Linked DNA regions of Homo sapiens: all the other regions are linked to region 1. The links come from fine-mapping of genetic effects on gene expression. A gene starts in region 1. Each other region holds a variant in brackets. All regions are shown on one strand. Distances are from middle to middle.

Region 1 (2,738 bases):
AAGAAAAAAGGAACAAGAGACGTAATAGCAGCACTCACGGAGGAAGGGACCTGGGCCCGGCCAGCCGCCATGATGCGCCGGAGCTCCGCCCCCGGGAGGGGCAGGTGCTCGCTTGGGGGTGGGGATGGGGGTGGGGGGGCGCTCGGTGACGTCACCGGTGAGCGGGTTTCCTCGCCACCTCCAGCTCCTTCTCGCTGCTCACCCCCTCGCTTCCTAGAGACTCCGCGAGGCGCCTCGGTGCACCATCCCAACTCCCGACACCCCTGTCTCTTTTCTCTGATTTTTTTTTTTTTAAGACGAAGCCTGGTTCTGTCGCCCAGGCTGGAGTGCAGTGGCGCGATCTCGGCTCACTGCAACCCCCGCCTCCCAGGTTCAAGGGATTTTCCGGCCTCAGCCTCCTGAGTAGCTAGGATTACAGGCACCTGCCACCACCACGCCCGGCTAATTTTTTTTTTTTTTTTTTTTTTTGTATTTTTAGTAGAGACGGGGTTTCACCATGTGGCCAGGCTGGTCTCAAACTCCTGACCTCAGGTGATCCACCCGCCTCAGCCTCCCAAAGTGCTGGGATTACAGGCGTGAAACACAGCCCCTGGCCCTCTCTGATTTTTTTGAGACGAGGTCTCGCTCTATCGCCCAGGCTGGAGTGCAGCGGCGCCATCTCGGTTCACTGCAGCCTCGACCTCCCGGGCTCAAGCGATCCTCCCACCTCAGCCCACCAAGTAGCTGGGATCGCAGGCTTGCACCGCCACACCCGGCTAATTTTTGTATTTTTCTGTAGCGACATGGTTTCGCCATGTTGCCCAGACTGGTCTCGAACTCCTGGGCTCAAGCGATCTGCCCGCCTCGGGCTCCCAAAGTGCTCGGATTACAGGCGGGAGCCACCGCGCCCAGCCTCCGTCTCCCTCCTAAGTGACATCCTGTCCGGCATCCCGCAGGCCTTCAGATGGATGGGGTAGCAGAGCTCAGGAACTCAAACACAGCCCGCCTGGTGGATGACTTCTAAGCATCTTTCAGTCTCCCTGATCTTGCCAAGCAGAGAAGGGCTTCCTCGTAATGCCACCAAAGCACAACTTTCACATGCTTGCTTTATGGCCTTAACTAACTGATGTCATTACTTAACTGTCCCCGCGGGGACGGGGAACTGAATGTATTTTCACAAACGTCAGTTCAAGACAGATTTGTGGGAGAAACCACCTGGGGATAAACCTCTCCCCACCAAGAACCTAGAATTCGGCCGGGTGGCTGGGGAAAAGTGGGCGGGGCGTAGTCGCCCCGGCGCTGGCAGGTCCAGTCTCTGCCCGCGGCGCACGCGGATGACGTAACAAACGCGCGCGACGATTCGAGGTGCTCTGTGGCCGCGAGTGCATCTTCCACGTGAGTATAGTTACCGCGTGCGGACCTGGATCCTCCTCCAGGTGCAGCGTTTCGTCATCTAGCCCAAGCTTGGTCTGGCGGCTTCAGTATCCCCACCGGGCCGAGCTGTGTCTACTTGGTGCCCGCGTATTTGCTTTAGTGGAGGCGTCCATTCGTCCTATCTTGCGTGCGTTCCGCAGACCCCAGGCATGGCCGACCCCCATGTAAATTTAGCCCCATTGTCCCATTCATGGATTCAGCTAACAGAAAGACTGCCGGCCGCCTACTTTATATCAGGCACCATGCTGGTCATGGAATACAGCCCTCATGCACGCAAACCCTGTCTCTGAGCTCTTGAAGCTTATATTTTACTGGGAATGATAGACGGAAATCAAGTGGCTTAATAAACAAAATGCCTTCAGGAAGACTGTCCTGAAAGTTGGGGAGGGGCTGAAGAGTGGTGAGAATCAAGAGTTCATTAAGTCATTCCACAAGTTTTAGAATTTTTTTGCGTTTCAAGCCCTGGTATTGTTCTAAGCCTTGGTAATTCAATGGAAACGAAGCAGCAACATCCCATGCCCACGTAGAGATTTTTTTTCTAGTGGGGAATATAGAGCGAAAAATAAAAACATCCAATAGTGATAAGCGCTTTACAGGAAATTAAAATAGGGCCGGCCATCTGATAGTAACTACTTGAGTGGCTAGTGAAGCCTTTTCCACGAAGGCGAATCACCAGAAATCTAAATAACAAGAGCTAGCCATGCATATGTCAGGGTGAAAAAAATGCCTTCCAGGACTGAGCTTGGCAAGTTAGAGAAATAAAAAAGAAGCTAATGTGTGGTTGGTGCATTGTGGGTGAAAAAGAGAATGGTGTGAGATAGGGTTGGAAAGGTAGGCCAGAGAGTGGCCAGACTTGGTAAACCAGGATGCTGAGTTGGAATTTATACCATGTGTAATGGGAAGCCATAATCCACTTTATGCTGATGTGTGACAAATGAATTGTGGTTATGCAGTGGTCAGGAGGTTAATGCATTGGTCCAGGTGAGTGATGGTGGTGGCTTACTTGAACTAGAGTGAGGTAGTAGAGATGAAGAGATGAGAGATTTGAGACATGATTGGAAATAGATTTCCTGGTGGATTGGATTTAGAGAGTCTGAGGGAAAGAGAATTAAGGATGACTTCTGTGTTTTTGTCTTGAGCAACAAATTGGATGATGGTAGTGTTTACTGAGTGGCAAGACTAGGGGAACAGCAGAGTTTGGTGAGTAAAGCCAGGGTCCCGCTGAGAGGCAGTGGGACCAGAAATTGGATAGGTAGTTTGGGATAGATGGGGAGGGCCTTTGAATGTTAGGCTAAAAGTATTAACTGTAATAGTTCTGTTGCCTG
Region 2 (2,759 bases), 510 kb after region 1:
TTTCAGAGGGTACAGCTGAAACCAAGCTTTCTTTTATCTTTTATTTTATTTTATTTTATTTATTTTATGACAGGGTCTTTCCTTGTCAACCAGGCTGGAGTGCAGTGGTGCAATCATAGCTCATTGCAACTTCAAACTCCTGAGTTCAAGAGATCCTCCCGCCTCAGCCTCCCAAAGCACCAAGATCTCAGGCATGAGCCACTGCACCTGGCCAGAAACCAAGCTTTCTTATTTCAAGTGCAGACCTTTATTAAGACTAGCCTAATCCTCTATCTCCTAAGCATCCTCCTCCTGCATGGAGCGCTCATCCCCCAGGAGGGCATATTCTTCTTATTGGGAAAGTGTGATTATTGAAAGATTCCACTTTTTTAAAAGAACAGGGTTGGAGGTGCTTTTTGGGGTATCCTCCTACCAAGGAGCCTGTTGAAGGCCTCGTGGTGCTCAGGGAGCACGGAGGATGCTCGCTTTCGCTTCAGCTTCATCTTGAGCCCACACAGCGTCTCCACCACCCAGGTGTCCTCGGGCTCAGGGGCGCGCTCCAACTCCAGCTCCTCCTCCAGCTCCTCCTCGGATTCGTCTGACCATTCGCTCTTCCTTTTCAGGCCAAGGGATTGAGGCTGGGGGCTGGGATCTATCCAAGGGGCTGAGTGAAGAAACCAGGCCATGGTGTCATGTTTCTGCCATTGATCACCTTAGACGCCCCGACCCAGGAACCTCAAACTACTCTTCCATCCTCCCAAGCCTCGCAGACTGTCAGCTTCTCCAAGCCATGTTTCCACCTTTCTCCTTTGCTGATCCCCATCTGCCTCTCCCTCACCTCCCCATTCTTCCGGCTCTCTGTCCTCAAAACATTTCCTCATCACAGATAAGAACTTTCAATTGGAGAAAAATGGAAACCTTCCCTTGAGCTCTGTCTGCTCTCTCTCTCTCTCTCTCTTTTTTTTTTTTTTGAGATGGAGTCTCCCTCTTGTTGCCCAGACCGGAGTGCAGTGGCACAATCTTGGTTCACTGCAACCTCCGCCTCCTGGGTTCAAATGATTCTCCTGCCTCAGCCTCTTGAGTAGCTGGGACTACAGGCACGCACCACCATGCCCAACTCACTTTTGTATTTTTGGTAGAGACAGGGTTTCATCGTGTTAACCAGGATGGTCTCGATCTTCTGACCTCGTGATCCGTCCGCCTCGGCCTTCCTCTCTCATCTTTTGAGCACATCTCCTGACCCCCTTCATTGCTCCCCAGACTTTCTTTACACGTG[G/A]CCATGCTTGGCCCCATTCCCTGCACCCTCCTTCCCCGATCCCTGGCTTCCTGAGTCCGTCGTTTCTTTCCCACACACCCTACTCAGGTGCTTCAGATTCCCAGTAACTGGCCCCCTTCCCTCTCCTCAGTCAATCATCTCCCATCGCTTCTCCCTCCAGTCACCTCACCTGATGGTCCTGGCACTTCATCATCCACCACCACCTCGGGGGACCGTACCGTTGTGCTAGGCTGGGGGCTCTCCTCCTCAAACGGGGGGCGCGCTTGACCACTGGCCATAATCTCTCCCAAACACTTTGTTTCTGTCCACAAAACCTAGTCCCTGTTCTGTCCAAAGCCTTCTTCCAGACTCCGTTAGGACCCAGAAGAGTGCGTTTCTCTTCTAGAGGCTCGGGAGAAGTTAGGAGTGAAGAGTAGTTCTGAGAAGTTGCTGTTGTCCACCTGAACTCCCAAGCAACCAGAGTCCGGTCCTTCCAATCAGGAAAGTCGGAATCTCTGATGTCATCGGTCATTCCAAACTGGCAACTACTTTGAAGAAAAACACATGTAACTGCCAGACTGATCTCTTTTCTTGGAGATCCGGGGTGAACGGTATCTCCTGGCAATGTCCCAACCTCTGAGCATTGTCCAAAAGCATCCTCAGGGTCTCCACATTCCTCTTTTCCCTGTCCCAGCAGAGGCTGTGTCCTCTCCACTCTAAACTTGAGGGGGTGTTGGGCTCTCCTCCCCGCTTCTCCTTCCCATTTCAGAGTCTAGTCTGGTGAGAGAGGGAGGAAGGTGGAAGGAAATTTAGGGTAAGCAGAATGATGAGTCCTTCCAAGAGTGAGATTAACATATACAGGAGATCCTGGGTAAATTGACTTGTTGAATGGAGACGTTACGTCGAAGTACTCAATGTGGCAAAGCTTTTTTGCTGAATGTTTACTGATATTCACTATCCTGGATCCTATAGTAGGGGAACATGCATCCTTTGCTCTCAGGCATCTTTGAGTCCAAGAGACATTTTGAGGAATGAAAATCACAGGAGACTGTCCATGGTTTCGTACAGATTTTCAATGGTGTCCACAAGTTCAGGGCATCCATGGATCACCTAAAGCCTGCCCTCCAGTTCAGCTAAGGAACTCTGGTCTATATATCAACTATTACAACATATCTATTTCACTTGACCCCAAAATTTGCCTACTATTTATGTATTTTATGAATAAAATATCCTGTGTATAAAAAGACTAAGGGGAAAATCTCAGCCAGGCCCAGGGGCTCCTGCTCATAATCTCCCTCCTTTGGGAGGCCAAGGCAGGGCGTCACTTGAGGTTAGGAGTTCAAGATTAGTCTGGGCAACATAGCAAAACGTCATCTCTACAAAATATAAACAAAGTAATCAGGAATCGTGGCACACACCTGTGGTCCCAGTACTTGGGAGGCTGAGGCAGGAGGATTGCTTCAGCCCAAGTGTTTGAGGCTGCAGTGAGCTATGATTGCACCACTGCACACCAGCCTGGAGGACA
Region 3 (2,759 bases), 21 kb after region 1:
AGGACCAAAATGCCAAAATCTCAGCGGACTCGATAATCTGCCTGCTGATGTTCCTTCTGTGGCTGTGTCTATTTTCAGTTCTGCTCTAACATGGCATGCCCTTTCTCAGCCCAGGAAACAGCATGTGGTTCAGAGAAAAGAGCGACAAGGAAAAGTTAGGACTCCTGAGGTCCGAACAGGGGCTTCTGTTGCCCACTTCACAACACCCAGTGATCACCGGTGTGCAATTGCCTCCTTGGCTCTGAGGGATGTTTTGCGCTCCCTTTTCTCATCATTGGGGTTAGCGGGTGCAGACAAATTCAGCAATAGTATGCAGATCAGCCCCTCACCACCTCATTGTTCTCATCTGGAACTGAAACTTTCTGGATTTCTCTTGAAGTGCTACACTGCACTGAATGTAAGGAATTGTTGCTTGTGGAAGTTTCTCAGCGTTTCTGGCTGTCTTAGGGCTGGCCTCAGAACCCAGCATTCCTGTTATTTGCTTCTAAATTAGCAGCTCTCTTTTTTTTTTTTTTTTTGAGGCAGTCTCACTCTGTCACCCAGGCTGGAGTACAATGGCGTGATCTCGGCCCACTGCAACCTCTGCCTCCTGGGTTCAAGCAATTTTCCTGCCTCAGCCTCCCGAGTAGCTGGGAGTACAGGCACACACCACCACACCCAGCTAATTTTTGTATTTTTAGTAGAGATAGGGTTTCACCATGTCTCCCAGGCTGGTCTCAAACTCCTAACCTCAAGTGATTCGCCTGCCTCGGCCTCCCAAAGTGCTGGGATTACAGGTGGGAGCCACTACAGCTGGCCCAGCAGCTCTGTTTCTGATAGAGGTGGTTGGGGCTCTCATCCCTAGATCCTAACCCTTTAGTATGCTGGAATTCTACTCTTCACTTACTGCATTGACTGTTGTTGATTAGTTATTATTGCAAAGCACTGTCACCGGCCTCAGGGAGTTTATGTGTAATAGAATTAAAAATAATAGCTGTGTATAACACTTAGCTCAAGCCACGCATGTGTGAGGCATTTGGTATGTATCTGAATTAATTCTCACTAAAATTCAGCAAAGGACTTGATAGCC[C/T]CTCCCCGCCTTTTCAATAAAGGATGAATGAAGGTTGACTGCATTGCCTGGGGTCCACAGATGGTGAGGGGGGCTGGGCGCACCCATACTACATCTGCTTCCCGCCATCCTGCAGTCTTACTTCCTGGAGGCAGTGTGTTGAGACTTTGTGCTGGCAGCTGTCTGTTGCTTCCTTTGCTCACAGGACTGTGGATAGAGGTCCCTTCCTCATGACTGTTCTGTTGTACACCTCAAGTCAGTTGGCTCCCTAGAATGTTCAACATCTTGATAAAAGGAGTTTGCCTGAGAATGGAGACTATAATCCCAGATCCCTGAGGGCTAGGAGAGCTGGGTGGGGGCGCTGAGCACTTCTGTGTGCTCCTGGTAGAGTAGCCACCCTGAGAAAAAACTGATAATAATGAAACAATGTTAAATGATGGCTATGGGGAAAACAACTATTTCAGAGATTTTTCTCATTGCTTTGCAAAGCGACCTACCCTGAGCAGTATGGGACTCCTCCGGATCATTTTTGACATTTGAATGTTCTTTCCTGACCCTTGGAAAGGATATATGTATGTCTTTCAAATTTATAGTATCGAACATACAATTTGGGGGCTGGTACCAAGGGTTAGATATTAAGTTTATTAAGTGCTTGATGCAAAAGTCAAAGGATGGCATGGGAGGTAACCTGGTTGGCTGTGATAAGTAAACTCGTGGATTTTGAAGGGGGAGCAGTTTCTGGTTTGGGTCGCAGTGGCCAAGTAAGACCCACCCTCCTCAGACACTATCAAGACCAAGTCCACTGGCTTTTCATCCGTGTTTTCATCCAGTAACCAAATAACCCTGTCCTTGCTGACCCCCACCCAGCTCCATTCCCACTCACCCACTCCCAAGGGCCCTCTGGTGAACCTTCCAGGCTAGCTCTCTGCTCCCTCCTTGCCTTCATGGAAAACCAGCTATCCTCTGAGAGCCACTTCTGCAGCCCCTCCAAGTGGTGGCTTTTCTTCTCAAACCTCAACCTCACATATCTCATCTTCCCCAGGCTGGGGAGTCGGGGTCCTCGTACCACTGCCAGACTGTTCACCCAGTTCAAAGAAAACCCTGCCCGTTGCAGGCTCATGCCATTCTACTACATCCCTTTCATCCAGTTCTTTGTGTTCTACTGACTTCCCCAGCGCTTCCTTTGGGAGAAGGTGCCAATTCTTCAATAGTTGATTCCTCTCTAGAAATACAATGTTCCTGCCAGGTGCGGTGGCTCATGCCTGTAATTCCAACACTTTGGGAGGCCAAGGCTGGTAGATCACCTGAGTTTGAGACCAGCCTGGCCAACATGGTGAACCCCGTCTCTACTAAAAATACAAAAATTAGCTGGGTGTGGTGGTGTGTGCCAATAATCCCAGCTTCTCGGGAGGCTGAGGCAGAAGAATCGCTTGAACCCAGGAGGCGGAGGTTGCAGTGAGCCGAGATCACGCCACTGCACTTCAGCCTGGGCAACAGAGTCTGTCCCAAAAAAAAAAAAAAAAAGAAAAAGAAAGAAAGAAATAGAATGTTCCAGGGCCGGGCGTGGTGGCTCACACCTGTAATCCCAGCACTTTGGGAGGCCGAGGTGGGCAGATCATGAGGTCAGGAGATCGAGACCATCTTGGCTAACACAGTGAAACCCCGTCTCTACTAAAAGTACAAAAAAAATTAGCCAGGCGAGGTGGCGGGC

Alleles and levels. Alleles are on the strand shown, and positions count from the first base shown. SD is a standard deviation of normalised expression in the study named. Not every link is listed here.
With allele G in place of A in region 2, the expression in monocytes of the gene that starts at base 1,324 in region 1 is higher (moderate effect, 0.55 SD a copy in BLUEPRINT).

What was found. PIP is the estimated chance that this variant, and not a neighbour inherited with it, causes the effect.
Region 2: its variant is fine-mapped to the expression of PFAS in monocytes (BLUEPRINT, PIP 0.95).
Region 3: its variant is fine-mapped to the expression of PFAS in whole blood (INTERVAL, PIP 0.97).

Annotation. Positions count from the first base shown.
Region 1 is chr17:8,247,966-8,250,703 of GRCh38, forward strand. It overlaps PFAS (phosphoribosylformylglycinamidine synthase), which reads left to right and starts at 1,324. Exons shown (of 28, transcript NM_012393.3): 1 at 1,324-1,374. CTC1 (CST telomere replication complex component 1) reads right to left here and starts at 91. Exons shown (of 23, transcript NM_025099.6): 1 at 39-91. The coding sequence starts at 71. RefSeq lists enhancers at 1-27, 508-627, 752-1,508 and a silencer at 118-167.
Region 2 is chr17:8,756,850-8,759,608 of GRCh38, forward strand. It overlaps SPDYE4 (speedy/RINGO cell cycle regulator family member E4), which reads right to left and starts at 1,697. Exons shown (of 7, transcript NM_001394956.1): 1 at 1,425-1,697; 2 at 413-643. The coding sequence starts at 1,533. The variant G/A (reference allele first, on the strand shown) is at 1,256.
Region 3 is chr17:8,269,380-8,272,138 of GRCh38, forward strand. PFAS (phosphoribosylformylglycinamidine synthase) reads left to right here. Exons shown (of 28, transcript NM_012393.3): 28 at 1-1,107. Among named protein-coding and RNA genes, the nearest start is that of RANGRF, 18 kb to the right of the region's middle. The variant C/T (reference allele first, on the strand shown) is at 1,070.